Linked DNA regions of Homo sapiens. The protein of the gene in region 1 interacts with the protein of each later gene in a biochemical or structural test. Each region holds a gene or a part of one and is shown on either strand. Other genes may lie near its edges.

Region 1 (3,500 bases):
CTTTCTGGAGTGTTTGGGTAAAATCTCCCTCAGAGTCAAAAATATGATACTTGAATCAAAACTGTGGATGTTTTTGAGGCTCTGTTGAGTTAGTGGGTAGCATAAAGAAGGATGTTAAGCTTAGAGACAAGATGTTGATTTTGAACTTACGGAGAAAGGTTTGTTCCGGTGTTGGAGCCCTGCTTGGAACTTTTACCAACCTCAGTGCCAGCCTTGAGAACAGCAAAGGATGGTCTGGCCCAGAAGCTGCCCTAGATAGTTTCCCTGGCCTCAGACCCAGCCTGGCCTCAGCTGAGGCCTTAGGGAAGCTTGCTGTCTCTCCTTGCCCCGAAATTAACCCTCAGTGGCCCTTACTGAACGCTTTTGCTGTTCCTGGGTCAACCATAAAACTCCTCCCATTGGAAGCTGTTTAAGAACTTGTTTATTTCATTGGGCCGGCTCTCTGCTCCTGCTGGGTACTGTTTATTCTCTTCTAAAAGGCAGAAGGATTTATATGTCCTGGAAACTCTCATGTGCAACATTTTTATTTTCTTTTTAAAATAAGCCCTAATGTTTGCTTCTCTGTTATAAGCTGAAGGAGATTAGAAACACTCAGATTTTCAGTACCAGCTCTTCAGCAGCCTAGAACTTGCACAAATGATGTGGCATTCTTTAAATTATCTTAGGTTTCAGTTTTTTTGACACCTGCTGAACGCTTAGGGTTTGTTAGTGCTGTACCAGCATAGACGTTGTCTCTTCTGTTCTACCATGTGAGCTATATTAAGGATTCTCAAGCCTTAGCGTGATTGGAGTCACTGGAGAGCTTAACACAGATTCCTCAGTCTCACCCCTAGAGATTCTGATCCATTAGGGCTGGCCAGGGGCCTGATATTCTGCATTTCCAATGAGCTCCCAGATGATGCTGGTCCTTTAAGTAGCCGCTAAGCTAGACGAAGAGCTTACGCTCAGGTAGATATAGACCAAACATGTATTGGTCTTCACACAGTTATGGTTTCACTGGTCATTGTCTAAACACCTTCCTAAATTTCTTAAGACCAGGATAAAATTTTAAAACCCAGACTGCCTAGGCCGGGCTCAGTGGCTCACGCCTGTAATCCCAGCACTTTGGGAGGCCGAGGCAGGCGGATCACGAGATCAGGAGATCGAGACCATCCTGGCTAACACGGTGAAACCCCGTCTCTACTAAAAATACAAAAAATTAGCTGGGCGCGGTGGCGGGCACCTGTAGTCCCAGCTACTCGGGAGGCTGAGGCAGGAGAATGGCGTGAACCTGGGAAGCGGAGCTTGCAGTAAGCGGAGATAGTGCCACTGCACTCCGGCCTGGGTGAAAGAGCAAGACTCCGTCTCAAAAAAAAAAAAACAAAAAAAACCCAGACTGCCTAGCAGTTAAATGACAGGTAATCATAGCCTAGACAGGCATCTCTGATCTCACTGAGGCCACATCTGAGCTGCAGCAGACTTGGGATTGCTACACTTGAGTGAGTTAAAGAGTTCTGCTCCCAGCCTCAGTTTCCCATCCTGACTTACCCCCTGATTCTTAGAGCAAAAGCACTCCAGAGCAAACATCTTTTTTGCTTTTCTTTCTGGGAAAGGAACAATTCTGGACATAACTTTCCTTGGATTGATTGAAAAACTTGAGATACATCCTCGATACCTTTTGTTCTTTAACCTCCCATCCGGTCTGTCTTTGAATCCTGCGGATTTTACCTCCTAAATACATTTTGAATCTATTCACAGCTCTCCAGCTCACTCAAATGACCACCGTGGTCCAAACCAGAGTTTCTGAATCAGCACTGCCAACATTTTGGAATGGATAATTCTTGGGTGTGGGTGTGTTGTTGGTGGTGGTGGTAGTGGTGATGGGGGTGGGAGGCTGACCTGTGCATTGTAGGATGTTTAGCAACATCCCGGGCATCTACCTACCTACCTACTAGAGGCTAGTAGCGCTTTCCAAGTAGTATCAACAGTATTTGTGGACATTGCCAAACGTCCCTTGAGGGGCAAAATTGGCCTTTGTCTCAGACACTCTTGCCTGGACCATAACTCTTTCCTCTACAAATCTTCTTGCTCCTCTTCAATTCCTTCTTTACCTAGCATCAGGAATTAATCTCTTATAAATGTGTATCTTTTATCACTCTCCCTCAAGCCTCCTATGCTGTCCCATTTCTCTTGGTTGGCTATAAGGTCCAACATGCTCTGGATCCTACCGGCTTCCACCTGCCTGGATTCTTCTCCCCTTCATCCTCTTCTTTCAGCTTCTCATGTCTCTGAGAGTCGATGCATGTGCCCCTGAGCTCCTCTCTGCCTCCAGGCCTTTGCACTTGCTCTTCTGTCTACCTGGAACAATCTTACCAAGTACTCTGCACTAAATAACCTGCAAAATTTCCACTTCTCTCCTCTTGCCCACAGCCTTTCTGTCTGCACTTAGGATTTGCTTATCACTAGACAATGGTTCTTTCTATTCTCATCTCAGCTGAAGCATCACTACCTCTAGGAAGCCAGGCCTCTCGGACCTCGCAGACTACATCTGGTGCCCTGAGACTCTTACTTTGGTTATCCTCCTGCATGGCATTTATCATAGCTGTAACTAAATAAGTGGAAGAGTCTGTCTTGTCCAGTACCATGTCTGTGGCACTAATCCATTGCCATGTGCACTGTAAGCTCTTGATATGTATTCATTTGGTGATGAGTTCAAGATTGAAAGGCCTGTCTTGGCAGTCATCAAAACTTTTCAGGTTGCTAACCAAAAGTGGGCTCGTGTTTAAAAAGAATGAGTTTCTCCGTGATGACCCAGTTAACAAAATTGTTTTCAGGTTTAGGGGAGGCATTATTTTTGTTCCACTAGATCCACCCAGATCAAGTTTTATAAAGCCCCAAATCCTAGAAACTATTTTGTCCTTTTCAGAACTGGAAATAAGTAAATCTGATAGACAATTGTATCAAAAGGTGTTCCAGATGTCCAAACACTTTGAAATGTATCTGTTAGAGTATTCACCATGAAGTATATTTTGTTTCTGAAAAGCTCCTGCACAGGGCCATTCCATAGTATATCTAACAAAACAGCGCACTTCTGCTAAAAAAAAGTTACAGATTGTCACTTCTATTTCATTTCTGTGATTTATAAGGAAAATTAGGATTTGTTTTACAAATATGTTACCCAGCTACACTGGATTAAATGAGTATAACCAGACAATTTGAATTGGCAATTCTGTTGAGATTTGTCTGTAAGTGGCTCTTTCTGTGTTCAGAAATGGTGCTTGCCTCGCTATAAAAATATTTGATGAGTAAGAATCTATTTATAAGGCAATTATGCATTGGACCGTAGACCAAGGAGCTTAAAAGAAAAGAAAATAATATTCATTGAGTTCCACTGGGTGCCATACACTTAAGGTGCTTTCTGTATGTGCATACATTATCTTCTCCATGTTCTTCATTAGATAGACCTCTTTTTTTAATGGGAGTAGCAGATTATGAAAGATTAAGGCTAGAAGTTAGATTCT
Region 2 (3,500 bases), on another chromosome or scaffold:
GATGAAGAAAGAAAATATTATACATGCTTTTGAAATTAGGTATGTTTTAAATGTTTGTGACGTTGAATCAGAGAAATTAGTAAACATTACATATTTGCTTTCTGAGGAGTAAATTTTTGTTGTTAGAAGACTGTCTTAGAAAAACAATATGCTTTTTGGACATGGCCTAAAGGATGCTTCAAGAATCACTAATCGTGCTCAGAACAGGGACAACTGAATTTTCATGCCTATTTGGTATTAAGTTGTAATACAATATTGCTCTGTTGATATCAGGTTTGCAATGATTCTTTCCACTTCCCAACATGTCTTTATTATTTTCTTGTTTAAAATAATCTATACACTCCGAAGAAAAGAATAAAAAAGTACAATTTCAAGAAATTTAAGTTACCTAAGTATACACTTAAATCTATTCTTTGATACAATTAAATGAAGGGAGAATTAACTAAATTAGCCTTAATGCATTTCTCTTAACCAATTTTACATGTTACAATAATAGAATGCTATTAGGCATAATTTAATAATTACCTTTCTTTAGGTCAATCTTAATTTTCTTTGCATTTTTATTGCTGCCAAATCCCATGAGAGGCGAGAGTGAGGGAGAGGATGGTTTTCCTCCCAGCCTTGGTACTCGGGGACTCTTGTTTTGTTGCAGGGAAGCTGATGCATCTGTTTCAGGACTATCGGTTCCTGTGAGATTTGCTGTCTTTAGTCCCGATTTTCCATGGACAGGAGGCGGCACTTTGGTTTTCAAAACGCCATCATTATTACCAAAAATGTTAAGAGAGCCAATGACTGACTTTTCATACTGTTCACGGTTTTGTGGAGGAAGCACGTGGAGGAGCACACTTGGAGATTTCATTGCCTGGCGGAAGACATCTTGAGCCCTGGAAAGAAAGTTGATAAATGTATGATGACCCTGCTTTGAGGTGCAGCATCTTCTAAAGTACCCCAGGAGGATGGCAACCAAGAGCAGCACAGTGGCTAATCATAGGAGACACGATCAATATTCCTATCAGAATGACTTTGCCAACTACATACTAGTTACCACTTACTATTTGCACTAGGTGCCCCTGCACTAGCTTATACATGCATTATTAGCATGCATCCTTCTCTAATTTAGAAAGCACATTCGGTAAGTATAAATAGCTTTCATTTCACGGACATGGAAGTTGAGGCTCAGAGAGATGAAATAATTTATCCAATGACCCACAGCTTTTACATGTTTCTAAAGATGAAAATCTAACCAGAAGTGATTACCAAAGTGAATATAAAAAGCAAAATAGATATTTTGGATCAGATCATTAGTTAGGTTTCTTTTAGGACATCCTTCTAAAGTACAGATCTTCTCTAACATGGGTTGTGTTACACAAGTTCAAGTTTGACATCCATGTTTGCTCATGGAGACATTTTGGCAGGTGCTTTGGCTGTGCCAAAATGTCTCAGTGGAATTTCAATCCAACATGCACCCTTCCTGTTACTCTCACACAGAGCAACTGTGTTTTTCACTTTTATGACCTAACACTTTGTGTTCTTCCTCAAACTTCTTATAACATTTTCTTCTTCCTCATGCCTCTAGATGCCCTGTGCCCAGGTCAAACAACTACCTTTCCCACTCTTTCTTGCCCAGAAGATATAAATGAAGGCGTTAAAGGAAAGCTCTTTAGAAGCGGCTGGTTCAGTAGAGAGACAAAAACTTTTATTGTTCTCCTGTTTCTCTTCCCTATTTCTTGAAACTCAGAAGTGACTGAGGAAACTCAGCAGCCATCTTGTGCCCATTTTTCCACTGAAGGATAGTAGCCACATGGCGAGATGGCAAAGCAGAAAACGGAAGCTGCCTGACCCACTGGCGGCTGTGCAGCTGCCGCACTAACTGTGGAGTGCCCTCTTCCACGTTTGCTTGTTGCTAGGAAAAATTAATGTTAATCTTGTTTCAGCTATTCTTATTTCAGGTCTCTGTTCCTAGCAGCCACAGCACATAATAACTAATCATAATCCCAACTGCAATCTGATTCCTTAAACCCTACCCCGCACCCCCCTTTCTGAAGTGCTTAATTCTGCAAATTGTTAGGGGAGAAGGAAGATTTCACATAGGCCTAACTCCACCTAACTCCTGTGGTCAGTTCCCCTATGTTATTTTTGCTTGCATAGGAATCAGTTTCTACTCCATACTAACTCTATACTAAATTTTTATGAGCCTCAGTTTCCACCTCTATAAAACAGAAGTAATAATGATTGCTTTGCATAATTATCAAGTCCTTGTGAAAAAGCACAGTAGTATATTAAAAATTATTACTAACTATAGTTTTGTCTATCATTCATTATTTTAACACAATAGATTCTTCTAAGGTTTCATTTCTTTTCATACTTAGCAGCCAGTACCCACTTTTCCTCGACCCACAACCACTCATCTTTGTCCACAAACACGCATACAATATTGACAACTAATGCCCAGCGAGAAGATGTATTAGGAGCTGTTTTGGTCAGAAACAAGAGGGTGGTGATGACTCCCAAGGATTATTAGTACTTAGTCCTTTGGTCCAGAATCCCACTGCAATGCCAACACACATTAAAAAAATATGCATCAGATTACTATACACTCTAATTCCTGGGTACAGGAAGCTATTCCCTTAACATTTTCACATGCAGAAAGATGATTTCTTGAGGGAGACAGTATTATTTATTTATTTATTTTGAAGACGGAGTTTCTCCCTGTCACCCAGGGTGGAGTGCAAAGGCGCGATCTCGGCTCACCGCAACCTCTGTCCCCCAGGTTCAAGCGATTCTCCTGCCTCAGCCTCCCAAGTAGCTGGGATTACAGGCGCGTACCACCACGCCTGGCTAATTTTTCTCGTACCTTTAGTAGAGATGGGGTTTCACCATATTGGCCAGTTGGTCTTGAACTCCTGACCTCATGATCTGCCCTCCTCGGCCCCCCAAAATGCTGGGATTACAGGCATGAACCACTCCGCCTGGCCAGGAGACGGTATTTTATTTTTTCTGTTTGTTTCTATGATTCGGTGAGTCCTCAGACATCTCTCACAGATTTTTTAGTTTAAGGAAGACTGCTGACACCAAGAAAGTTAATTAATAAGCTGAACCAACAGTCTGTGAAAAGAGCCGTTAAATACCAGTTTAAGTGACCCATAGCCCAAGAAAAACAAACCCGTTCAACGACGCCCCAGTAAAGACAGCCAGGCAGGAAGGCTTGTGATATTCTGTAGTTTAGCATTCTCAGACCTGCCAGAGACATGTGTGGGCCACCTTTGAGTAGGCTAAAACATTAGAAGCATTCGAAAATGGATATCCTGGATCGTTCAAAGGGAACTGACTAGAAATTCTACCTACTATTTTGATCATAATGAGTTCAGTAATGCTTATAACCATGCTAGGGATCAAGAAAGTAAATAAAACAATGAAAAAATGCTTACTGAGCAAAGGTTTTGTCTACGAGATCCACATTGTTGATTTTTACAATACATTCATTTTCGTGAAATAGTCCC
Region 3 (3,500 bases), on another chromosome or scaffold:
GAGACAGAGTCTCACTCTGTTGCCCAGGCTGTAGTGCAGTGGTGCGATCCCAGCTTGCTGCAATCTCTGCCTCCTGGGCTCAAGGGATCCTCCCACCTCAGCCTGCCGAGTAGCTGGGACCACAGGCTACACGCCACCACACCTGGCTAATTTTTGTAGATATAGGGTTTCACCATGTTCCCCACACTGGTCTCGAACTCCTGAGCTCAAGCGATCCACCCACCTTGGCCTCCCAAAGTGCTGGGATTATAGGCATGAGCCACTGCACCCAGCCAGATTACTGATTTTATATCTTTCTTCTTTACGAATATATGCATTCAGTGCTATAAATTTTCTTCTCAGCTGTTCTTTTGTTGCGTCCCACAAATTTTGATAAGTTGTGTTTCCATTTTTATTTAGTTCAAAATATTTTAAAATTTCTCTTGAGACTTTTTTCTTTGACCCATGTGTTATTTGGAAGTGTGTTTTTAAATCTCTGCATGTTTTGGGATTTTCCAATTATCGTTCTGTTTTTGACTTCTAGTTTAATTCCACTGAGGGGAAGACATTGTATGCATGATTTCTATTTTAAATTTGTTATGGCGTGTTTTATGGCTCAGAATGTGGTCCATCTTGGTGAATGCTTTATGTGAGTTTGAAAAGAATGTGTATTCTGTTTTTTTTTCTTTTTTTGGATGAAATAAGTGTAGGTGTCAGTTATAGCCAGTTGATTGATGGTGTTGTTGAGCTGAACTGCGTCCTTACTGGTTTTCTGACTGCTGCATCTGTCCTTATAGAATGGTATTGAGGTCTCAAGCTATGATAGTGGATTTATCTATTTCTTCTTGCAGTTCTGTCAGCTTTTGTCTTACATATTTTGATTCTCCTTTCTTAGATATATAAATGTTTAGGATTATTATGTCTCCTTAGAGAATCAGCTCCTTTGTTGTTATGTAATGCCCCCCTTTAATATATATATATTATATATATATAATAATTAATATAGTTACTCCCCCTCTCTTTTGATTGGTGTTGGTATAGCTTTCTCCATTCATTTACTTTTAATCTACGTGTGTCTTTTTATGTAAGGTGGGTTTCTTGTAGATAACATACAATTAGCTCTTATTTTTTGATCATCTCTGACATCTCTTTTAATTGATATCTTTAGAACACTGACGCTCAAAGGGATAATTGGTTTTGATGGATTAATATCTATCGTATTTGTTACTGTTTTCTATTTGTTGCTTGATTTTTGTTCCTATTTTTGTCTTCTACTCTTCTTTTTGTCTTTTATGCTTTTATTGAGCATTTTTTTATGATTCCATTTTCTCACCTTTCTTAGCATATCAGTTGTACTTTTTTTTAAACTGTTTTTTTTGAGTGGTTGCCCTAGGGTTTGCAATATGCATTTATAACTAATCCAAGCCCACTTTCAAGTAATACTATATCACTTCTCAGGTAGTTTATCTTATAATAGCAAAATAATCCTAATTCCTCTCTCCCGTCCCTTGTATCATTGTTGTTACTAATTTCATTTACATTTATAAGCATACATAATATGTACATTATACACACACACACACACCCCCCACCACACACACACACACACACACAGACACACACACACATATATAAGCTTACGTAATCAAGGAGTGGCCACTTCCAAAGTGTTTACATATATGTAGAACCAGAAACCAGCAGTCCTTTTATTTATTTTGAGTTCTATTCCAGATTTTTCCAGTGGAAATACATATTTGGAGTGAGAAACATCATAACAGTAGCATGTTTTTATAAAATAGACTTTTATAAGTTATTCAAAAGAGTTAGCAACTACTGTCTAATAATATAAGTTCCTCTAGAGCCCAGTAAAGATATCTGTTTTTAAAAATAGCAAATTGAACCACCAAAATAAATAATACAGGATTTTCTTTTTCAAAGTGAAAGGTCAGATGCCATCAGGGAGCCAGCAGCAGTGTAGTGCTTTGATCATTTGGATTTGCATCCAGATCTGAATCTTTTCACATTCAGAGCCTCTAATCTTGGCAAGTTAGTCACTCAACCCAGTTTGTTCTTTTTAGAACAGATATGGTAGTGTCTATCCCACAGTGTCATTCTGAGGATCAGCTGCTGTAATTTATGTGTAGTCACTTGGTAAATTGTGAAGCACTCGCTCTTATTTTAAGTGGAAGCACAACTGGCAGCAAGGACTTTGAATGTCTTCTGTTCCTATTAGATGACTTTCTATCACGCTTTCTAAGAAATATGTTTAAGCTTCTTGGATCTTCCTTCAGTGCTTTCTATACCTTCCTTTGCAATACAGGTTCTTAAATGTGAAGTGGAATTGATGGCCAGGATGGCAAAAACCATTGACAGCTTCACTCAGAATCAGACAAGGCTGGTGGTCATCATCGATGGATTAGATGCCTGTGAGCAGGACAAAGTCCTTCAGATGCTGGACACTGTACGTTTGCGCCACCTCAAAAGCCACCATTGTTATGTTGTGGCACTTGAGAGAATGTTTGACTTCACAAATATCTAAAAATAGAACGGAATTGGTTTTTGTTTGAGTAGTTCCTATTTTGTGATTTTTCTTTTGTAAAAACAACCATTCTTTATACAGAAATGTAGCAAGAATAAATGTTTAGTCACAAAGATATTTAAATAATTTTAGCTTAGTGGCACTGTGAGAAAAATGAATAGAGCATCTGTATTCATGAATGTTTCTCATGTGCATTGATTTACCTCTTTAGCAGACTGTAAATGTCTGAAAGAAGGACAATATTAATTTTCTTTGCAGGTTTTATCTATGTCAGATGACAACAAACCTAGATTGAGCTGTCAGTAAAATTTGCTTTTGTGCAGAGTAAGTTTTGATGAAAAGAAATAGTAGTTTAGAAATATTGTCACCAAAAGGTAGCACATATTTTGAAGAGATGCCTTATTCTTTTGGACAATTTAAAATGTATGTCACAACTGTACATTTCTTCTGCCACAGGTCCGAGTTCTGTTTTCAAAAGGCCCGTTCATTGCCATTTTTGCAAGTGATCCACATATTATCATAAAGGCAATTAACCAGAACCTCAATAGTGTGCTTCGGGATTCAAATATAAATGGCCATGACTACATGCGCAACATAGTCCACTTGCCTGTGTTCCTTAATAGTCGTGGACTAAGCAATGCAAGAAAATTTCTCGTAACTTCAGCAACAAATGGAGACGTTCCATGCTCAGATACTACAGGTAAAGCTCAGGCTCCTAAAGTACTTTGAGTTTGAAATAGTTTTGTAGTTTCTTTATGGCGACTCTCCTTTTTACCTTGAAAAATATTGTTGTTGTTTCACATTTCTTTAAATATCATATACAACAGAATTTTGGTGTAAGTGATGCTGTCTTGATAAATTATTTAAGGGATACAGGAAGATGCTGACAGAAGAGTTTCACAGAACAGCCTTGGGGAGATGACAAAACTTGGTAGCAAGACAGCCCTCAATAGACGGGTAAGATGCCATTGGCTTCGAGCTG
Region 4 (3,500 bases), on another chromosome or scaffold:
CAGGCCCCCCACGCCAGCCAGCCCCCGTGCCCGTGCCCACAGCCACGAAGAGGCCAGCCGACCTGCAGCCACTTCCACCCGGCTCTTCACTGACCCGCTGGCACTGCTGGGGCTGCCAGCAGAGGAACCAGAGCCTGCCTTCCCACCAGTGCTTGAGCCTCGATGGTTTGCCCACTATGACGTGCAAAGCCTGCTCTTTGATTGGGCTCCGAGGTCTCAGGGGATGGGGAGCCACTCAGAGGCCAGCTCTGGGACCCTGGCTTCAGCCGAGGACCAGGCTGCCAGCTCGGACCTGCTGCATGGGGCACCTGGCTTTGTGTGTGAGCTCGGGGGTGAGGGTGAGCTAGGCCTGGGTGGACCAGCATCCCCACCTGTGCCCCCTGCACTGCCCAACGCGGCCGTGTCCATCCTGGAGGAGCCACAGAACCGAACCTCGGCCTACAGCCTGGAGCACGCAGACCTGGGTGCTGGCTACTACCGCAAATACTTCTATGGCAAAGGTGAGGAAAGGCAGTTCCAGGGAGTGGAGGAGGGGGGCTGAAGAAGAGGTCCCTGTCACCTGCAGTGCACACAGTAGGGCTCATGAACTGTCCATTTCCTGTAAAGTCCCTGGCCCTGGGAGGGCTCAAGAGCTGAGCTGGGGTCCTCCTGGACCTACTTTCAACCACCTTCTTAAGGCTAATCCCTGGCTCCTCACCCCCAGCCAGGGCTGGTCCCTCTGCCTCCGTATTGGTTCATCCTCCATCTGGTTCAACCTGCCAGGCTGGGGAGAGATTCCCTATGGGCTTTTCTGTGGGGTGAAAACTCAGGCCTCAAATCCCTGCATCCGTGAACCTTGTTCGCACCAGCACTGCGGAGAGAGGGCTCCAGGACATAGAAGGGAGAATGAGGGCGTGGTGGGTGGAGCCAAGGCAGGATTTAGGCCTGGGAGCTGGCCGCGTGGGTCTAGGTCTGGGTCTGGGTCCACCTCTGGGTCAGGGTTGAGATCAAGATATTGAGCTCGGGGCTACAGAGGGGCGGGACTTAGTCTAGGGTCAACATTTGGTGGTGAGATGAAGCCTAGGGCGGGGCTTAGTGATGCGCGTGGTCGAGCGGGGGCGGGGCTGCCAGAGGGCGGGACCAATCGTTTTCTTCGGCGCGGTCCCCCAGAACATCAGAACTTCTTCGGGATGGACGAGTCGCTGGGCCCGGTGGCAGTGAGCCTGCGGCGGGAGGAGAAGGAGGGCAGCGGAGGGGGCACCCTGCACAGCTACCGCGTCATCGTGCGGACCACGCAGGTGGGCCGGGATCGCGGGATCAGGACGTGGGTTGCCTCCCCGACACCTTGTATGCATCCTGAGTGCCCTTACACCCCTTCCTCAGCTCCGGACACTCCGTGGCACCATCTCGGAGGACGCGCTGCCGCCGGGGCCCCCACGGGGTCTGTCCCCAAGGAAACTTCTGGAGCACGTGGCGCCGCAGCTGAGCCCCAGCTGCCTGCGCCTGGGCTCAGCTTCACCCAAGGTACCACGGACGCTGCTCACACTGGATGAGCAAGTGGTGAGTGGCGGGCCGCGGAGCCCCCAGCCATACAGCTGGCCCCAGTCTGAACCCAGCCTGCCCAGCTCCCAAACCCCTAGCCTTGACCCTGATCCTGGGCTGGGTGGTGACCCCAGAAGAGCTGGCTTTTCAGAGACAGGGCATCAGAGTTCATCTGGAGCCTTGCGTCTCAAAGTGAGCTCTGTAGACCAGCAGTATCCACATCATGTAGAAATGCAGATTCTGGGGCCCCACCCCAGACCATCTGAATCAGAGTTTGCACTTTATTTATTTATTTATTTATTTATTTATTTTGAGATGGAGTCTCGCTCTGTCACCCAGGCTGGAGTGCAATGGTGGAATCTCAGCTCACTGCAACCTCTGCCTTCCGGGTTCAAGAGATTCTCCTGCCTCAGCCTCCTGAGTAGCTGGGATTACAGGTGCATGCCACCACGCCCAGCTAATTTTTGTATTTGTAGTAGAGATGGGGGTTTTACCATGTTGGCCACGCTGGTTTTGAACTCCTGACCTTGTGATCTGCCCACCTCGGCCTCCCAAAGTGCTGGGATTACAGGCATGAGCCACTGCCCTTGGCCCAGAGTCTGCATTTTAAAAAGATATTTGCAGCCCTAGATGCCCTGGTCTGACTCACCCCACTGGTCCTGCAGTTCCCGCATCATTCCTGGCCAATTTCCCCCACAGCCCCTGCTGGGTTTCCTCTAACATGTGGTGCTCACAGCTTCCTGGAGCGGCTCCTTCCATCCCCCACTCCATGCTGAAAGCTGCCCATTGGCTGAGTCTTCTCCTCTGTATCATTCAACCCATCAGTCATTCAACAAACATTTCTTAGACCTTTTTGGTGCCAGGCCTCAGACTGGATGCTGGGGACAGGTCTAGACCAGGTGCTTTGCTTGAGTAGCTCACAGCTGGGTGGGAGAAAGAGACCCACAGAGAACTGCTGAAACACAGGAGCAGTACTGGAACACTGAAAGGGAATGTTGAGGGCTGCCTGGGCCACGACGGTAGTGATGAGAGCCCTTCCTTGGCCAGGGTTTTCCAGCATGGAGAACACAAAAGGGCTCAGGCCCGGATAAGCAGGTGTTTTCTGGTCAGAAGGAATAACTTGTGCAAAGGCTTGGAGAATGAGAGCATGGCACATTAGGCAGTCAGTTCAGCGTGGCTGGGGTTGGGATTGTGGGGAGGGGCGGGGGAGAAGCTTGCATTTGTTCCCGTGGACACTGGGGAGCCATGGAGGGATACGGTGCAGATCTGAGAGGGGCAGCTCTCTGGCTGCAGCATGGGGACTAGACTGTACGGGGCGGGGATGCCAGGCTGAAGGCTATTGCAGTTGCCCAGGCTAGACACAGTGGCAGCGATAGTGGAGGTGAAGAGGAGGTGACAGTCCAGGAAGGACTGGGTAGTCATGTGGCTGACTGGAAGGGGTGAAGTGCTAGGATTTCCCAGCTTCTTGGCCCCCAGGAGTGGTGGTTTAAGGAGGAGGAGCAGGGTGGGGGAGTCACAGCAAGGTGAGACATTAGGCAGCCGGAGAAAAAGGCCCGGGGTTTGGTAGGCCGGTCTGAATGGGAGGCGGAGATGGGGGTGTCATCCTTGCTGCAGCCAGGGAGGGGGAGGAGCATGGGTGGAGAAGAGGCCCAGGCAGAAGAGGGCGGGGTTCCTGGGGCCCTAGGCAAGGTGAGTTTCCAGCTATCCCCAGTGCCACCTATGGCTGAGAGGGTACCAGGATGAGGCCACATCTGGGGACCATATGGGGAGTGGGGGGTGCAGGGGGTTGGGAGGAATGAAATCGAAGTGGGGACTGTAAGTGCAGACAAGTTTAGTTGTAGAAAAGGGAGGTGACCGCTGGAGGGGAGCCTGTGCTGTTTGGAGGAGTTCAGAGCACCTTGAGCTGGGCATGGTTATCCAGTTATCCGCAGAGGGAAGAGCCGGGAAGAGGGCACAGAAATGGGAGCATGGGGGGCAGA
Region 5 (3,500 bases), on another chromosome or scaffold:
TTACAACAAACTTTCCCAGAGCATACAGCTGGACTTCACTTTGTAATAACTTAAGCAGTTATTGTATATACTACATCAGCATAAAAAATCCATAAAAGCATCTTTTATCTCCCCTTCTTTTTAGCATTAAGTACAGTAGTAGGCATATAGTAGGTCTTCGGCAGGTGCAGATTAGCAATAGAATAACTACCTATTCTCATTTATGTTTCGTATTGTATTTGTAAATATGGTAAATTGTTCTTTTCTTACAACTCTTTAAATTTGGTGAATATATAAGGAATAAGGAACGTCAAAAGAAGCAGTAACAGAGTGGCAATTGCACCATAGTATTCTACAGTTGGAAGACCATTTGCCCCATCATTGCCACTCTGGTTCTTGGACCTCTGAGAGTGCACCCCCAATGAAGCACACCATTTCCTGCAGCAGGTCATTCTACCTTATCATTGTGGAATGAACTTCTTTGCTTCAGGCAGAAAAGGCTCCCCAAAGGAAACCAGCCTTTGGTCAATGTCACCTTTGCTTCTAGACTTCACACAGTTAATGATCACATACCATCACGCTCTACCCTCCTCATTTGCTGGGAGTTTTCCAAGTTCTGTTTCTATCTTTCTGACTACCCTTTCTGTCTTCCTTTTTGATTCTGGTCCTTCTGTATAGGGGTCTTCTCTGGCCTGCTCTTCTGGCTCTATTCACTTTACTAGTATGTAATTCACTAGTTTATGTCCAAATACCCCTGACATTTACCAGATCCCTATAAAGACTGTTATAGCTCCTGAATTTTGGACGCATATTTCCATCTACCTCGGGGCATCTCTGCCCACATGTTTCCAGGCTCCTAAAACTTGGCTGGGGAAATGCTAAGCTCATGTTCTATGTGACGCCTTCCTTTTAGGAAATATCACTATTTTCCTCTTATATAGGCTCCTTCCAAACAGGTAAATACCTTTATAAGGATACTGTCAGTTATTTGTGACAAGTCTCATACACACATTAGGAATCCTTTTCTAGAACACTAGCATAAATTAACCTGTACTGAATATGCCTGTTGGGTGTTATGTGCCCAAGTTTCAAAAGGCATCCTGCCATGGGAATATCTGCTTCTCATGAGGAGGATTAACGTGTGTGTATACAAGCCACAGCTAATGCATAATTAAGATGTTGATTATTTATCATGTTTTAGCTCTAAAATCTTTATATAATTCCCCAAAGCATTACACTGAAATGTTCTTTCCTTAAAGGCTACGTATTTTAAAAATGCCAAAAAAGTGTCCTAATCTTATTTGAAAGCTCTTCCGTTGAGATAGCCTTTGCCAAGAACATATTCTTCAAATAAGATGTGCTCTTTTAGCTGAAGATTACATTTAGGACAAAATATCTAGAAAAAGTTAATACTTTGTCAAGGCAACTTTAGAATTTGAGTAACCAGTTTCTCCTCCTTGGGGACTCCTGTTCTTGCCTCAGATATTTCTGGTTTCAAAACAGGGTGCCAAGGCAGACCTCTCTTCTCTGCTGATTTTTGTGTGTGTGTGTGTGATACTTTCAGAATAAGATTATCCTGGACCCCATGACGTTCAGCGAGGCCAGGTTCCGGCCGTCCCTGGAGGAGAGGCTGGAGAGCATCATCAGCGGCGCAGCGCTGATGGCCGACTCCTCCTGCACGCGAGACGACCGGCGCGAGAGGATCGTGGCGGAGTGCAACGCCGTGCGGCAGGCGCTCCAGGACCTGCTCAGCGAGTACATGAATAATGTAAGTCTTGGGATCTCCATTCTCATGTCTTGGTGGATTCTGTTCTGCAATCGTGTTGCTCTTTTGGAAGCATAGATAGCAGGAAAAGAGAACAGACCAGGTGTTTACCAAAGAGAGTCAGGTGAAACCAAAGAACTGCTTTGGGAGAGCGCGTGTCGTGTGTGTTGTTTCTGAATCCATTTTTTGTTTGTTTGTTTTAATATGGAACAGGTGGATGGAGAATAAGCTCTTTCACTTTTTACTTGGCTGATTTCTTCTCGGTCATTTTAGTGGCTGCATTTTGAAGTAGGTAAGATTTCAATTGGTAAAGGTAGATGATTGATGGAAACAGCTGAGGATATAGTAAGTCCTCTGTTACAAAGAGCACTTTTAAACCTAAGGATAGCTGTAGATGCGAATCTTCACCCCTAAGAGGCATTAATAAATCTACTAGGTTTAAAAAACGTGTGGATAGGGTTGTTTAAGGAAAAGTTCTAAATGTAGTAAAATTTGGAGGTGTTTTATTGATTCATAGTCAGGAATTGCTTATAAGAGTGAGTCTCTTAAGTTTTCAAATAGGTATGTATGACTGGTATCTAATTGTATTTTGGCACATAATAGCCATCCTCTCCTATAGTTGTAAAATGTGACAGTTTCTGTGTACCTGTAACCTGCAAGAAGGTGATGAAACTCATATTCTTTGCCTTGAAAGGCACTAAATTATGGCTGTATTGATTTGCTACATTCATTCAGCAGAGGCGATGCTTGCAACAGTGGATGATCTGTGCTTCCCCCTTTCCTGGACTTTCGGGTTTGAGATAATTTAGCACAAATTGGGGAAAAATGTAGATAAAGTGAGGTCTCGATATTACATTTTGAAGGAATGCCCTGTATAGCTACCAGGTGGGTAACAGAGACACTGAAAATCTGCTCACAGCTACTGAAGTCCATGTTAGGTATTATTAGAACACCCCGAGGCAATGCTGAAACAAAGCAGCCATTCAGTGTCTCTCCCTCCAGCATCTTACCACTCCCATCATGAGTAAAAATATGTAGCTAACAGACATGCAAGCAAGGAATGAGTGTTGACAGTAGCAGTGCTCCTCCTGCTGACCCTCCAGAGAACTCACTGAGAAAGCAAAAAGATGTCAATGAGAAAACCTAACAAACTAAAAAAAACAAAATTTGTTTCCTTTCCATGAACCTTCAGATTCTTTGATTTTGGAAGACTTGGCCTTTTTCAGCACACAAAGAATAAAATGTGGATGCATCATGTGGCACCCAGCTGCTTATGAGGACGTCTCTATAGGACCCTGGATGACCAACACTTTCTGTAATTTTGATCCATGGTATTACGTAGGGTGCAGCTAGAAATGTTGACCCCACAGTCTCCCAGCTGAGTGAATCTTTTGAATAGCAGATGTGTCAACGAAGAATGCTTATGAAATCTGAGACGCTGTTTGTTTGTTCGTTGTTGTTGTTAACAAAATAGCAAAGGGCTAATTACATGGATGTGGAATTTGGTTTTACATTAAGGCACGCTAGTGGTTCTATTAATGAATAGTTACTGCCAAAGAAGGAAGTAGAAACTACAGAGATCACAGTGATGGTTAAGATCTCAATATAAATAAATCAGACAAAAAAGTATGTTCTTCTAAATAGAAATCACAGAACGTGACTAAATAAGAGTTGATCAACACGTGACATGTAATTTTCAGTTTGGTGTCTAGAATCCTGCCAACTAGAAGTTTTTCTTTCAGTGTAATCTCATGCA
Region 6 (3,500 bases), on another chromosome or scaffold:
ATGCACATCTTATCATTTGTCAATGAAAAATGCACATTTTATCATTTCTGAAATAGAGTTGTGTCTTATACCTTATGGTATGTTATAGTTTAATTGGCATATTTTTCTTAGTGGTACGCCGTATAATCATTGGCACCTTGGGTTTGCTGAAATGGTCATTTAAGGCTTACTTTGTATCAGGCACTGTTGTAAGTACAGAACTTCACATAATTAACTAATGTAATTCTCACAACACCTTGTGATATAGTTACTATTTTTAATCCCATTTTACAGATGGGGGACTGAGACCCAGAGAGATAAGTAACTTGCACATGGTCACCAGTAAGTGGTAGAGCCAGGATTTGAACCCAGACATCTGTATATAACTATTAGCTATACTAGGAACCTAGGCCCAGGAAAGAGCAAGAGAGGGCTGCCTTGTCAGGAAGGAGACCCTTAGGGGAGAGTCTTGGGAGTCTGGGCCTGGAGAGGGTCATTTATGTACAGTGCTGAAGACCCTTTTCTCTGTGTTTCAGTTGGAGAAGATCGGGGAGGACTCTAAGCAAGCCCTGCAGCAGCTCCAGGCCCAGCTGGAGGATTATAAGGAAAAGGCCCGGCGGGAGGTGGCAGATGCCCAGCGCCAGGCCAAGGATTGGGCCAGTGAGGCTGAGAAGACCTCTGGAGGACTGAGCCGACTTCAGGATGAGGTAGAAGTCTAATATCCTTGGGTTTGAAGGTCCTTGCCTCTTTTTTTTTTTTTTTTTTTTTGTCCGAGACAGAGTCTCACTCTGTCGCCCAGGCTGGAGTTCAGTGGCGCGATCTTGGCTCACTGCAAGCTCTGCCTCCGGGGTTCACACCATTCTCCTGCCTCAGCCTCACAAGTAGCTGGGACTACAGGTGCCTGCCACCACGCCTGGCTAATTTTTTATATTTTCAGTAGAGACGGGGTTTCACCGTGTTAGCCAGGATGGTCTCAATCTCCTGACCTCGTGATCCGCCCTCCTCGGCCTCCCAAAATGCTAGGATAACAGGCATGAGCCACTGCGCCCAGCCCGGTCCTTGCCTCTTAACTGAACCTGTGGCCAAGGGTCCCTGGGGCCCAGGTTTAGGTCTAATGACTTGCAGGGTGGAGGAATATATTGTCTGTAGAGCAGTGATTTTCAAATTCTGTAGCTTAGAGCCACCTGAGGAGATTTTTAAAAATCCCCACACCCAGGCTGTATCCCATACCACTTCAGTCATCATCTCTGGGGATGGGATCCAGGATCAGAATTTAAAAAAACTCCTCAGGTGATTCCAAGTTGTGTAGAGACTTTAAAAACAATAAAGAAGCTGAGGACGGTGGCTCACGCCTGTAATCCCAGCACGTTGGGAGGCTGAGGCGGGCAGATCATGAGGTCAGGTGTTCAAGACCAGCCTGGCCAACATGGTGAAACCTTGTCTTTACTAAAAATACAAAAATTAGCTGAGCGTGGTGGTGCATGCCTGTAGTCCCAGCTACTCAGGAGGCTGAGGCAGGAGAATTGCTTGAACCTGGGAGGTGGAGGTTGCAGTGAGCCGCGATTGTGCCACTGCATTCCAGCCTGGGCGACAGAGCAAGACTCCATCTCAAAAAACAAAAACAAAAACAATAAAGGAAATTAATGAGGGCAGGTGCAGTGGCTCTTGCCTGTAATCCCAGCACTTTGGGAGGCTGTGGCGGGCAGATCACGAGGTCAGGAGATTGAGACCATCTTGGCTAACACGGTGAAACCCCGTCTCTACTAAAAATACAAAAAATTAGCCAAGCGTGGTGGCACATGCCTGTAGTCCCAGCTACTCGGGAGGCCGAGGCAGGAGAATCACTTGAACCTGGGAGGTGGAGATTGCTGTAAGCTGAGATCGCACCACTGTACTCCAGCCTGGGCGACAGAGCGAGACTCCATCTAAAAAATGAAAAAAAAAGAAAATGGATGAAAAGTCAGTTTGCTTTTTATTGTCATCATGCCACTGGTAATTCTAAAGAGTGACAGTGATGAAATGTTTCTGCCCACTGGGCTGGACTGCTCCTGCCCCTCAACCCTCACCTTCTCACTACACTGAGCTGTGGCATTTTTACCCCCTGCCCAGATCCAGAGGCTGCGGCAGGCCCTGCAGGCATCCCAGGCTGAGCGGGACACAGCCCGGCTGGACAAAGAGCTACTGGCCCAGCGACTGCAGGGGCTGGAGCAAGAGGCAGAGAACAAGAAGCGTTCCCAGGACGACAGGGCCCGGCAGCTGAAGGGTCTCGAGGTGAGGGCACTGAGGTGTGACCTGTGGAAAAAGGGTGGGACTTCCAAGCCTCTTTCTGTACTAGCGGTCAAAACCGACAGCCCACAGTTGATGAGTTTTGTTTGGCTGCAGTATTTTCAACAACTTTGAATCAATTGCCAATGTTTAGAAATTTATAGAGGTCACCTAAAAATTTGGATTTCTAGTTTCTTTTGTATTTGGCAGATATGGTAATACTGAGTGTCTTGTCCTGAGTCTGCATGGCAACAGTTGGCTGGAGCTGAGCAGTGGGTTTCCCCTTTAGAGTGAACAGTATTCTTCAGTTTGCTATATTTGATAATAATAATAGCAGCAGCAAACATATTGTGCTGTGTGATAGGCACTTAAGACTTAATCCTCAGAATAACTCTGTGGGGTAGGTAGTCTTGTTTTCTCCATTTTACAGATGAAGGAAACTGAGGCACAGAGAGATGAACTTGTCCATGGTCTACTGCCAGGAAGTGGTAAATCTGATTTTCAGACTGGACAGTCTGGTCCCATGTACATACTCTTAGCCTCTACGTGGTACTGCCTCCAGTACCTCAGTTTCTGAGTCTCTTCACCTCAGCCTTGGCCCAGGTACTTGGGTTTCTCTCTCTTTTCCCATTAGAGAAATAAGGTTTTCCAATGAAGAGTAGATTCTGGGGTTTGCCTTTCTGTCAAAGGGCCGTCACCAGAGCATGGCCCCGACCTGCCCATGATGCCACATCTGGTCAGTAGAGGGCGCTGGCTCCATAGTGGCTCTGGGTCCAGGCAAGTACCAAAAGGTTACTGGGATGTGCAAGAGAGAAAAGTCTGTTAATGCTGGAGTTTGAGAGGCTCCTGGTCTGAGTTTGGCATTCTGGTGTCCAGCATTTGGGACAGAATTACTTGTTCTTCTGTCCTAGGAAAAAGTCTCACGGCTGGAAACAGAGTTAGATGAGGAGAAGAACACCGTGGAGCTGCTAACAGATCGGGTGAATCGTGGCCGGGACCAGGTAACCGCCCCCACCCCTCATCTCTGTTTACCCCTGACTGCATCACCTCTTGGTTCTCTCAAAAACAACTCTACCCTCCCATCTTTCATCATCTGGCTGCCGAATCTGTGCGTGGCTGGGTCTCCTTCAGGGTTTTGTCTGCTTTGGGAAAGGTTGGCCAGTTTCCTTGGGTGGAAAGAAGCCAATGATTTGCATGGAGGAAGGGATCCTGGTGGCCTGGGCTGTTCTCTGACCTGAATTGGGGCTTCTTTGGTT
Region 7 (3,500 bases), on another chromosome or scaffold:
TTGAGGTTTAAACATTATTATTTAACAGTTCGGTTAGAGTTGATGCCAGGTTGCATTTTACAGATGCTTAAACATTGATTAATTTTGATTAATTTTGCTACTTTCTTTTCATATCTTGGGGCCAATCATTTTTTTCTGGGTCTCAAATATTTTCAAAGGCTCTTAGAAAGCTTGCAAACACAGGCACTATGCCTATAGTGACTGATAAATAAAGTAGCTCTTGGCCCGGTGCGGTGGCTCATACCTGTAATCCAAGCACTTAGGGAGGCCAAGGAAGGCGGATCACAAGGTCAGGAGATTGAGACCATCCTGGCTAACACAGTGAAACCCCGTCTCTACTAAAAATACAAAAATTATCTCGGTATGGTAGCACGTGCCTGTAATTGCAGCTACTCGGGAGGCTGAGGCAGGAGAATTACTTGAACCTGGGAGGCAGAGATTGCAGTGAGCCGAGATTGCACCACCGTACTCCAGCCTGGGCAACAGGAGCAAAACTCCGTCTCAAAAAAAAAAAAATAGCTCTCAGTTGACCTGGTGTTTAGAAAATAAAGGGGTAGGCTTTCACTTCCAAGCTGTCATGGTTGCTGCTGATCTCTTCCTAGTCCAAGTTAGAAGTAGGCTCTCTCTCTTTGCATGGCATTTAGAGAGATGCAGAAAACTTTGCCAAGGTTGGGAAGGCTCATGCTTAGAGTCCTACTTCCCTAGAGACACTATGCAGCCACCTACCTTCTATAATGTCTTGTCACCTGCTTGGGGCACCATTGCAGTACAGGTACAAGGCTCCCCACTGCTTTTGAGGCCCACAGACCTCTCTCTCCTTCTTAGTCCAGAAAGCTCTCCACCCTTTCTCTTCTTGCTCTCAAAGCCTTCCTCCCTCTCTTCCCTCACCCACCCCAGGATACTTCCCAATATATTTTGGACTTTTCAAAATCCAGGCAAAATCGTTGACTTCAATCTACTTCTGCTCTGTGTGTGGCAAAAACTGTGGGTGAAGGAAGCACAAAATGGTCTACTTGTTTTAGGGGAGTTACTCATATTACAATAAATTATTATTCCACAAAGGAATTGATTCAAAACCTGCCTCTACCATTTACCAGTTCTGTGACTTTTTTTTTTTTTTTTTTTTTTGGAGACAGAGAGAGTCTTGCTCTGTCACCCAGACTGGAGTGCAGTAGCGCGACCCTGGCTCACTGCAACCTCTGTCTCCTGGGACCAAGCAATTCTCCTGCCTCAGTCTCCCAAGTAGCTGGGACTACAGGCACTTGCCACCATGCCCAGCTATATATATATATATATTTTTTTTTTTTTCTTTTTTTTTTACAGATGGGGTTTCACCATGTGGGCCAGGCTGGTCTTGAACTCCTGACGTCAAGTGATCTGCCCGCCTCAACCTTCCAAAGTGCTGGGATTCCAGGCATGAGCCACTGCACCCGGCCTAATTCTATGACTTTGAACAAGCACTCTAACCCCTCAAACCTCCTGGTTCCTCACCTGTGAAATGAGGACAATCATACCTACTTTTTGAGATTGTTGAGAAGGTTTAATTAAGGGGATGACACACATAAAGTTCAAGGCACCATTGCTGGGACGTATTGGAAGTATATAAATGTTCATTCTTATTCCCTGTGTTTGCATTTCCTACAGATAAAACTGTGGGTGTACCAATAGAGCCCATTATTGCTGCATGTGTTGTGATCTTTCTGACATTGTGCTTTGGACTGATTGCTAGAAGAAAGAAAATAATGAAGGTATCTAAGTATTCTGAGCTATTTAAGTAAAAAGCCATCATCTGAATAAAGGCAGAAAGCTAGAAATATAAGTGACTTCAGTTAGGAACCCTTCTTGGCAAAGTCAAATCTGGTCTTTATACCATGAGATCTAAAATACAGTTGCTCAAGGGAATAAAAATTATATGTACATTATGAGTACAGATTTACAAAGAAGAGAAGTGCACATGGGCAAAGCCTGAATTGAAAATAGCTGTGTTGCCAGGGGTAGGCAATTGGGGGCTGATTTTCCTCCTTTTAAATTGCCCTTTATTGTTGCTATGATACCTGTGGTATAATAAATAAATATAGGGAGGAACATCCGCTCTAGATTCAGAGATCTGCATGGAAAAGATGGCATTGGCTGCTCACTTCTGGACTATAGCCACATGCCCTGGCTGTAGTGGACTGGTGTTTGAATTATAAAGTGGTTATCCTCGTTGGTTGGTATGATTCAGAATACGTGCATGCTTAGGTTAATGCCATGCATTTGACTCTGCCAGCTAATTCAGTGCCAAAGGAGAGCAAAAAAGGCAGAAAGCCCTAGGCTGAGTTCATCATTCAGCAAGGGGCATTCTCCTTGGAACACATAGCAACAGGGCAGCCATGTCTCTCAAGAAGAAATTCACTCCACCCCCTATTCCAATCCCAAGCATATTTTAGTTGTTGTTGTTTCTTTTCTTTCTTTCTTTCTGTCTTCCTTTCTTTCTTTTTTTATTTTTTTGAGATAGAGTTTTACTCTCTCTCCCAGGCTGGAGTGCAGTGCCTTGATCACAGCTCACTGTAGCCTCAACCTCCTGGGCTCAAGTGATCCTCCCACCTCAGCCTCCCTAGTAGCTGGGACCACAGGCATGCACCACCGTGCCCGGCTAATTTCTGTATTTTTTGTAGACAGGGTTTTGCCATGTTGCCCAGGCTGGTCTCGAACTCCTGAGCTCAAGTGATCTGCCTGCCTCAGCCTCCCAAAGCACTAGGATTACAGGCATGAGCCACCACACCCAGCCACAAAGCATTTTTTTCTTTTTTTTTTTTGAGATGGATTCTTGCTCTGTCACCCTGGCTGGAGTGCAGTGGCGTGATCTCAGCTCACTGCAAGCTCCACCTCCCAGGTTCACACCATTCTCCTGCCTCAGCCTCCAGAGTAACTGGGACTACAGGCATGTGGCACCATGCCTGGCTGTTTTTTTGTATTTTTAGTAGAGACAGGGTTTCACCATGTTGGCCAGGCTGGTCTTGAAATCCTGACCTCAAATGATCCATCTGCCTTGGCCTCCCAAAGTTCTGGGATTACAGGTGTGAGCCACTGCACTCGGCCGCATTTTTTTTTCTATAAAAAAGTAAATACTCAAGTATCTAAGACACTGGAAGCATCTTAACTAAGAGTTACATCTTCTTTGAGTTTAATAAAAACTACTAGTGTGGCCCCAAAAATGACGCCTGAGCCAGTGCAGAGGTGTGCACAGGACACACACCTGTCCTCGAGCCATCTTAATGCATTCAAAATATTTCTCCATGGGCCTTAAAAAGCAGGCTAATTTACTGCCATGTTTGCTTTTAGCTCTGCATGAAGGATAAAGACCCTCACAGTGAAACAGCTCTGTAAGTACTCTAGGCCGGGACCAGTGCTTTTTAAATAAGCAGATGAATAGCAGTGATATGCATCACTCTAGACAAACTCCAGAGATGGGAGGTGCTGGAAGGGGAAGGGGTTCAAAGGAGAATAGAAGGTGGAGG

The links.
Region 2: the proteins of PDZRN3 (region 1) and PARD3B interact in a test that uses a peptide from one of them, tested with the Homo sapiens proteins (one large-scale study listed by IntAct).
Region 3: the proteins of PDZRN3 (region 1) and KIDINS220 interact in a test that uses a peptide from one of them, tested with the Homo sapiens proteins (one large-scale study listed by IntAct).
Region 4: the proteins of PDZRN3 (region 1) and SIPA1 interact in a test that uses a peptide from one of them, tested with the Homo sapiens proteins (one large-scale study listed by IntAct).
Region 5: the proteins of PDZRN3 (region 1) and CTNNA2 interact in a test that uses a peptide from one of them, tested with the Homo sapiens proteins (one large-scale study listed by IntAct).
Region 6: the proteins of PDZRN3 (region 1) and CGN interact in a test that uses a peptide from one of them, tested with the Homo sapiens proteins (one large-scale study listed by IntAct).
Region 7: the proteins of PDZRN3 (region 1) and TMIGD1 interact in a test that uses a peptide from one of them, tested with the Homo sapiens proteins (one large-scale study listed by IntAct).

The regions. Positions count from the first base shown.
Region 1 is NC_000003.12:73,618,442-73,621,941, reverse strand, and holds part of PDZRN3 (E3 ubiquitin-protein ligase PDZRN3), read left to right. Parts: intron 1-3,500. UniProt on the Homo sapiens protein: E3 ubiquitin-protein ligase. Plays an important role in regulating the surface level of MUSK on myotubes. Mediates the ubiquitination of MUSK, promoting its endocytosis and lysosomal degradation. Might contribute to terminal myogenic differentiation.
Region 2 is NC_000002.12:205,118,975-205,122,474, reverse strand, and holds part of PARD3B (partitioning defective 3 homolog B), read right to left. Parts: coding exon 3,429-3,500; intron 885-3,428; coding exon 526-884; intron 1-525. UniProt on the Homo sapiens protein: Putative adapter protein involved in asymmetrical cell division and cell polarization processes. May play a role in the formation of epithelial tight junctions.
Region 3 is NC_000002.12:8,778,614-8,782,113, reverse strand, and holds part of KIDINS220 (kinase D-interacting substrate of 220 kDa), read left to right. Parts: intron 1-2,299; coding exon 2,300-2,440; intron 2,441-2,974; coding exon 2,975-3,218; intron 3,219-3,386; coding exon 3,387-3,475; intron 3,476-3,500. UniProt on the Homo sapiens protein: Promotes a prolonged MAP-kinase signaling by neurotrophins through activation of a Rap1-dependent mechanism. Provides a docking site for the CRKL-C3G complex, resulting in Rap1-dependent sustained ERK activation.
Region 4 is NC_000011.10:65,641,101-65,644,600, forward strand, and holds part of SIPA1 (signal-induced proliferation-associated protein 1), read left to right. Parts: coding exon 1-500; intron 501-1,149; coding exon 1,150-1,277; intron 1,278-1,362; coding exon 1,363-1,539; intron 1,540-3,500. UniProt on the Homo sapiens protein: GTPase activator for the nuclear Ras-related regulatory proteins Rap1 and Rap2 in vitro, converting them to the putatively inactive GDP-bound state. Affects cell cycle progression.
Region 5 is NC_000002.12:79,908,051-79,911,550, forward strand, and holds part of CTNNA2 (catenin alpha-2), read left to right. Parts: intron 1-1,543; coding exon 1,544-1,747; intron 1,748-3,500. UniProt on the Homo sapiens protein: May function as a linker between cadherin adhesion receptors and the cytoskeleton to regulate cell-cell adhesion and differentiation in the nervous system. Required for proper regulation of cortical neuronal migration and neurite growth.
Region 6 is NC_000001.11:151,531,887-151,535,386, forward strand, and holds part of CGN (cingulin), read left to right. Parts: intron 1-515; coding exon 516-686; intron 687-2,088; coding exon 2,089-2,250; intron 2,251-3,155; coding exon 3,156-3,245; intron 3,246-3,500. UniProt on the Homo sapiens protein: Probably plays a role in the formation and regulation of the tight junction (TJ) paracellular permeability barrier.
Region 7 is NC_000017.11:30,317,058-30,320,557, reverse strand, and holds part of TMIGD1 (transmembrane and immunoglobulin domain-containing protein 1 isoform 1 precursor), read left to right. Parts: intron 1-1,644; coding exon 1,645-1,748; intron 1,749-3,324; coding exon 3,325-3,365; intron 3,366-3,500. UniProt on the Homo sapiens protein: May control cell-cell adhesion, cell migration and proliferation, cell morphology, and protects renal epithelial cells from oxidative cell injury to promote cell survival.